2 linked regions of the Homo sapiens genome follow. The protein of the gene in region 1 interacts with the protein of each later gene in a biochemical or structural test. Each region holds a gene or a part of one and is shown on either strand. Other genes may lie near its edges.

Region 1 (3,751 bases):
TGACATTTTTTGCTTTTGTCATGCTTGAGAAAAAGCACACAGATGAGGCGAAGTGGCTTGGGTGTGAATTTTCTTACTTTGTCAGGGGCTTTCTCATTATTGACCTTTTGTCTACTTGTAGATAATATCTCTGCAGCTTGAGGCATACTTGCACACACCGTGTTTACCCAGCAGGGAGAACTTCAACCCACTTTATTGCAGTAGCTACTTGACATATTTTGGCAGGGATTTAAAAACCAAAGGTTTTGAAAGGGACCAGCAATTGTAGGAGTAACTTAACAGATAGGATTTTCAAACCTAGAGACCGTTTGAGTTGGCAAAGATGGCACAGCCTATGCCTAAGAGTGAAGATTGTGCAAGGGCCGGATTTTGGTGGAGTACAGAGAAACAAACTGATGCAGGAAGGTAGGGAGCAGATGACCATGAGGAGGAATCAGTTAGAGGTTCTGACAGATTTTTTTCATTCTTGTCATCTAACCAGATAGGCACCAAGAAGAATGGTAGCTGAATGGACACCTTGTATTGTTCACATTATTCCTTTTCCCTATTAAATGCAAGGACAAAGCTTTTGGGTGTTTACCTAGATAGTTTATGGCTTTTCCAAATTGGTCTGTGTTTTTACTTGAAGTGCAAATATGTGAGGCAGATGTTAAAACAAGTGACATAATGTTTACATTAAGTTGCCTGTTTTGTTTTCCTAGCCTTAAATTGGAATGTGAGAAACTGGCAAGTGAAAAGACAGAAATGCAGAGGCACTATGTGATGGTAGGTATCAAAGATTGGACTTTTTCCTTTTTCATATGATATTAGCAAACGTGTTAGCAGAGTGTAAAAAACATGAGTTAATGAAATGCTTGATTCTTTTTTCTCTTTACAGTATTATGAAATGTCATATGGATTAAACATTGAAATGCACAAACAGGTAAGCTTTAGTTGAACTTCAAGCTGAAATGAGACATCAGTTCATATGATTTAATAATACTGGCTTTGTTCTCAGTAGTGGGCTCTAGGGGTGGGGGTTTGTATGCTATTTTTCTGCCTTGGTTTCCTGTCCTGTGGATTGATGGTAGTATTCTGCATCAAGGGTTGCTTCTTGATAATTACAAGTGTTTAAATGACTAGGAGAGGGAGAGGTGTTTTGGAAATATAAACTAGCCTCTTTATTGACAGATAGGAATTAAGACTTGAGTTTACTTTTTCACCTGTATAGATTTATCCTCTTGAAAGGGCTGGGTATCTTCTACAGTTGCTGAAGTTTAGAATAGTTAATGTTTTTGTGCTGTTTTGCAAGGAAGTGTGGACCTGTTGGGGGGAAAGAAGGGTATTCAGGAGTTTTTTTTAATCGTGGTAATCAAGGTATATGACTATCTGTGGAGTATTCTTTATGCTTTGGGGCTGCATGAAGCAATAGTCAGGATTAGTGGCTTATTAGCAAACAAATTTTTGAAAAATTTCTCAGTTGTTGCAGGTGTGGATGTGAAAAAAGCATCTTTTTATGGCCAGAGCATATGTTGGGAGTTGCTTCAGTCCTAGTGGTTTTTAAAGCATGAAAAGATTAGTGACTGGAAAGCTCTAGCAATGACTATGAGTTTGCAAGTTCCCATAAAATTCACACTTATGGCTACTATAATGGTGTATAAAAAGAGTATTGAGCTGGAACAAGGCACTAAGGACCTCATAAGAGAAGAAAAGCTAAATGATTGCTCAGCCCAAAGGACCCTCGATTGAGTAGTCATTGTCTGCCAAAGAAAGCATTAATGGCAGGGTGTAAGTATTCTGGAGATACGCTGACATTCACTTTTTCATCAAGACGCTGGTACAATAAGTCTTTTAGAAATCGATTGCCTCTTAAAAAATTATCATCAGATGAAGTTGCACAGTTGGACACATTTCAAAGTGCAACAATACAATTCTTACTTGATGTATATGTGCTATTTCATCTCAAACCCTTGTTTCATTAAATTAAAGAGCATGGCTGACCGGCTGGGGCACAGTGGAGAAATTGATTAGTTCAGCCTTCAGATCTTCCTTATATTCAAAGACTTTCATTAAGCAAGTGTGTTTCAGAGTTGAATTCTGCTTTTGTAACTCCGCACTCTTTGATTTTTAATTCATCATAGATTTCATAATGTTAAGTTATCGTGTACATTAGATCTGTTCTCAGATTTGTGTTTGGAAAGAGATTGTGATTTTCAGGGCCTTTTATTAATAATGTAATTGGGCCTTTAAAAATGCAGATTTTACTATGATTTACAAAGTTGGTAGCCTACTTTATGTTGGGTTTGTGCCTTTGTTTTTGTGTGTTTCTCAGTGGCTAGTGCCTTATTCAGGCACTTGTAACTTCTTGATAGTAAATGGGCTAGAAGATCTGTGGCTAACATCTATCGTCATTTAAGTGAATTATGCAAATAAACTTGGCCTAGGCGGTTTAATCTTTTTTTTTTTTTTTAATTTACTCTGAAGGGCACTTTTTTTTGGATAACAGATATTATGGAAGAGTAAGAGGAGACTGAGCTTTTTCTTAAACCCATAAACTCAAAGGATTTAATAACCTCATTGACTCTTTTACAAGGGAACACCACCTCAGTGTGATGCTATATGCTGGTGCTGGGTTTATTGGAGGAGCTAAAAGAGGTGTGTAATTCTTCTGGGTTCCTGTAGGTTATGTGGCGGGATGACCTCTTCTTTATCATGTAGGGAGAAGGGGTGAAGTGGGTCAGAAGCACCATGGTGTGAGAATAGTTTTCTAATGAGTTTCTATACAGAGTGAGGCATTTGTGGCTATATACTGTCTGTCCGTGAGCCTGTATGCATTAATAATATGCTGTGTATAATTGGCTTAGCAATTTGAAAAACGTGAAAAGCTGAGAGACACCATGTTCTTCATAGTAGGGTACTGAGCCTCCTGAAATTTAGTTGATATTGGAAATGCTGACAGACCCTTAACTAGAGTGCTGTGCAAAGTAGTGCTATAATTCAGTTTAAAGTGGACTTACATTTGAAAAACATCCTTCTGAATGTCACACATTAATAATAAGTTCTGAGGAGGCATTTGGTGCAGCTAGTAATCATAATTCTTATTAAAACTGGTGACGTCTGGCCCCCAGGGTGTAGCCAAGCTCAAATTGATGCTTTTTGCCGCCTGATCACCAGCATGGCCTAAGTGCTCATTATATTGTAGAGAGGGCCTTTGGAGCTCTCATTAGATTTGACAGGAATTCTCTCTAGGGGGAAACTGGGCATTAGCGAGACTCCTGACAGGCTGAAATTATTCCTGCTTTATGGCTTATAACCAAATGCTAGCAAGGCATCATCAGGGGACACAAAAAATTGTCATTTTTGACAACATCTTTGTTACTAAAAAAAAAAAAAAAATGCAGTGATGGGGAAACTTTCCGTACAGAGAGCTTTAATGCTGTTAAGATTTGTCTCCAGTGTGACGACCGCTCTCCCTTCCCACCTTTCAACGGGTTTGTCGGAGTGAGTTCTAGAGATTTCAGTGTCAAATCTCACTGCTGACTTTCCTGTCTGGAAGTTTTAAAGTGAAAGTGCATCCAAATCAAGAATGGTATAATTGTGGTTTCCTTTCCTGGTGTGGTGCCCACAGCCCGTGTTTAGGTTGTGTCAACACTTCCTGATAAGCCTTGCCTTTACTTTCTCTGCTCCCGTTTGTGGCGGGTTACCGAAAAGGCAATGAAACAGGAATGGTAATAGATACTTAAGTCTTTCATGGTAGCACTAAGAATATTTT
Region 2 (3,751 bases), on another chromosome or scaffold:
ACTGTGGAAGGGCTTGGTTTGGGTAAACAAAACAAAAAAAGACCAAAGTGTGCCCTGATCCTGTCACCTCATTTGTAGAAGGTGAACTTAACATCTTTAGTGTGAGAGAACGTCTGTTGAGAGAAATGTGGATTGGATAGCGTTTGGAGGTGAGTAGATGAGGGAGGTCTACCTAGCTAGTTATTACCCTCTGGAAGCACTTCAGCTGACAGAACTACAATGGGCTTTTGAGGCTCTCTCCTTCAAAACTTGCTCAAGACCATTTCTCCCATGTTTCCCGTGGTAGGAAGGATCTAGCGGTCATGACCTGCACCAGGAGGTCTGGCCTACCAATAGGACACATGTCCTCACAGAGGAGACAAACACAGAGGGCTAGGCTGATCAGGAAGAGAAACCAGTAGCTACAGAAAAATTCCCCTGGAGTAATTCATTAACGGTCACAGGCTTGTCTCAAAGTCATCTTGACATTGCCAAAGTCTGGTTGAGCTGATGGTAATTCACTCTGAATAGCCACAGGAGAGGAAGCCTTGCCTTGGTAGAACATGAATCCAGGAGTGGCAATGACCCCTTTCCTCCCACCTCCAGCTTCTGGGAATCTTTTTGCTTTAGAGCTTTGTGGTTAGGGGATTAACTAACTAGTCTTGAATGCTGGGACTAAGGAGTCATTCAGCTGCAGAAATAAAACTCAGTGTTAACCTTCCTAACCACACATTTTCATTTTTCTTTTTTCTCAAATGTTGGGTAATGTTTACTGTCAAGGAGCTGAAGCTGGCTTTTGTAGGTTATATTTCCAGTCTTAGGGACTTAAATTTCAAAGTTAACTTATGCGTTTGTTTCTCTTTATCATCTTTCTTCAAACAGAGCGTGATATCCTGGGGGTGGCTGCACTGTTACAGATGTAGACTGCCTCCACCAGGATACAGGGGTTGTTGCCTGGGGATGGACAGACAGAATGATGGAAGGTAGGAAGGAGAGAAGAAAGTGAATGATAATTTAGTTCCAAGGTATGGTGGAGAGAACACATGTTGAGAGTTCAGAGGCTCATCCTGCTGCCTATTAGTTGGGTGACCTTTGGCAAGTTACTGAACTTCAGGTAGCCTCAGTGTCCTTATCTGTAAGTGGGTGGGAAGATGCAAACTGTAATGATGATAATGTGAAATTCTAAAGTCCATGTCTCAGTGCCTGGCAAATCAGTGCGTAGTGGACAGTGTTTTTGTTCCTTCCCCCTCACCAGCTTCTTGCAGACAAGACCACCTTCAAGTCAACAAGACTGTCACTTTTATGATGCCAGGAGGCCTGGGGAACAGCCCAGCACTGGGACTCTCTAGGGGTCACCATGGGCCAGTCATTTTATGACCATATTCCTAAGTCTCTGCTAAAAAAACAGGATTAGACTAGCTCTGTCACGCTTGCTTCCTGCTGTAGAAGTCTGTACCTCTCTTCCTTCATACACACATGACATTGTGCAGCAGAAGAGTTCACACCCTCAAATCACAGGCTTTTGTCAGTTTTTCCCAAGGTGTAAAAATGGAGACAATTGGCATGAGGTGTGTGGTGTGATGCTGGAATTCCATTTTTGCAATTAAAATCTGTGAATCTGTTTACCTCTCATAAAACCAATCTCTAATATTCTCCCCTCAAATTGCACATCGTTTAAGGCTCCTGCCTCTTGTTAGTAGCATTTGAGAGTGGCGTAAAAGGAAGAGGACGACGAAGAAAGGGTCTTTTATTCCAACTCACTTTTTTTGTATCCTCACCAATTCTGAATAAGGAAGTGATATTACATGATGGGGCAGGGGTGCATTTTGTTCCTGGACACCAGCTTTGCTGCCCTTGCCTTGGCCTGGACAGCTTAAACTGACTGGCCAGTGAGCCCTGAGTGGCACCCTGACAGGGCTGGCCCTTGCCTGCTCCTGACCCTCCACTCCACCACCTCAGAGCTCACCCATAGACTTGTCTCCTTGGCCCTTTCTTCCAGAGGACAGCCTGGGGAGGAACCCCCAGGACATGAGCTGGCCAAGCGCTCTGCTTTTGGTAGGATTTTACATTTATTTGGGCTTAGAGAGAAGGAGTTTCCCCCTTTCCCTTTCTTCACTCCTGAGTCAGGGTCTGTAAAGCCCTATTGGCCCAGGGTCGGTGCTGTTGACCTCCCAGAAACAGGCCCACTCTTGAAATCTTTAGATTCACCTTTATTGCTTGGGCTTTTAGTAAGGAACTCTACCCATTTGGGTTCATGGTTCCATTTGGTTGATGGGATATTTTGTCAAGATTGGAATTTGGTCCAGGAGAGCATCAGGGGGGTTCGGTTATATGGGGTGGGGTGGGGTCTTGTGCCGCCTTTGCATCCCCAGTACAAATGCGTGGTGACTCCTGGTGGAGGGAGCCCAAGTCTGAACATATGTAAGATGGGCCTTGCCTCACTCCCTTTGAAGCCCAGCCGCAGCCGGAGAGCAGTAATTGCTGGCTTTGATTGCGCAGACTTCACTGGTGGGTTGGGCTGTGCCGGGGCTCGCCTGGCCTGGCCCAGCTTCAGCCGCAGCCCCCCAGTGAAGCCTTAGATGTGGGAAAGCTCCAGCCCCTGGAGCCTCATGCCTGTGGTTTCTTGAAAATAATCTGGACTGGACCTGTTTTATATCTGTAAAGCAACACTACAAGGCCCCCGTTTCTCCCACTTGGAAGTAAGACTTGGTCTCCCCTGACATCCCTGTATTTTAAAAGAGCCACCAGGGACAAACTGCCTCATTTCATAGTGAAGGAATTTCTTTGCTCTTTTTTTTTTTTAAGCACTAGTCCCTGAAAGGGATTAGTTGCTTTTTGGTAAGCAACTGTACAGAGGTTCTCTGAAGCCAACTTTCCAGGAGAATTTGCAAGGTGACCCCATGGAATAAGGAAATAACAGGTGGGAAAATGTGAGACTGTGGAAAGAAATGACTTTATTAGGAGATATAGACTCTTTCTTGGCAAGTGACATACTATCCTTTAGGTAAATGGCTATCTCTGGGCACCCATGTTTGTGTTAATCACTATATTATCACTTGTACTCAGCTTAAGAGAGGAGGAGAAGGCACCCTTAGGTAAGGCAGTGAAGGGACAAGAAGACTGGTGGAGCCGGAAGTGCAGGGTGCTCTAGATTGGAGGTGTTAGCCCTGCTTGAGAATGGGGCCACAGCAGGGCCATGGAAGTTGTCTGTACCTCAGTACTTCACAGTTCGCTGTGCCAGGCAGTGGTGGGATGGCCCAACAGAAGGGCAGGTTGTCTCCCTCAGGCGTTCCTGGCTGCCAATGGCGAGTCTATTCTGAGTCCCAGTGCTTGTCTCAGGCGCTAGCCTAGGACTGCAAGGCCAGGCCTCACCAGGAAACTAAATGTTTTCATGTCAGACTGAGAGGAAAACCTTCCCAGGAAGAGCAACCTGGACCAAGCCTTTGAAAATCTGTGATGCAAAATTATAATGTAAATAGGAATCTGTGGGGTGCCCTCTCTCCCACCCCAGGCTCTGCTAGAGCCCTGTTTCTTTCTCCGTAGAAAGGCAGGGTCCTTCGTAGCTCTTTGATCCTCCTGCGTGCAAGATCCATACCTCTGTGGGCCTGGCACAGCGAACTGTGAAGTACTGAGGTACAGACAACTTCCATGGCCCTGCTGTGGCCCCATTCTCAAGCAGGGCTAACACCTCCAATCTAGAGCACCCTGCACTTCCGGCTCCACCAGTCTTCTTGTCCCTTCACTGCCTTACCTAAGGGTGCCTTCTCCTCCT

What was found. The genes of interacting proteins can lie anywhere in the genome.
Region 2: the proteins of TLE1 (region 1) and LEF1 form a complex in vitro, tested with the Homo sapiens proteins (2 studies listed by BioGRID and IntAct, with this or other methods).

Annotation. Positions count from the first base shown.
Region 1 is NC_000009.12:81,682,847-81,686,597, reverse strand, and holds part of TLE1 (transducin-like enhancer protein 1), read left to right. Parts: intron 1-701; coding exon 702-765; intron 766-877; coding exon 878-922; intron 923-3,751. UniProt on the Homo sapiens protein: Transcriptional corepressor that binds to a number of transcription factors. Inhibits NF-kappa-B-regulated gene expression. Inhibits the transcriptional activation mediated by FOXA2, and by CTNNB1 and TCF family members in Wnt signaling.
Region 2 is NC_000004.12:108,050,291-108,054,041, reverse strand, and holds part of LEF1 (lymphoid enhancer-binding factor 1), read left to right. Parts: intron 1-3,751. UniProt on the Homo sapiens protein: Transcription factor that binds DNA in a sequence-specific manner. Participates in the Wnt signaling pathway. Activates transcription of target genes in the presence of CTNNB1 and EP300.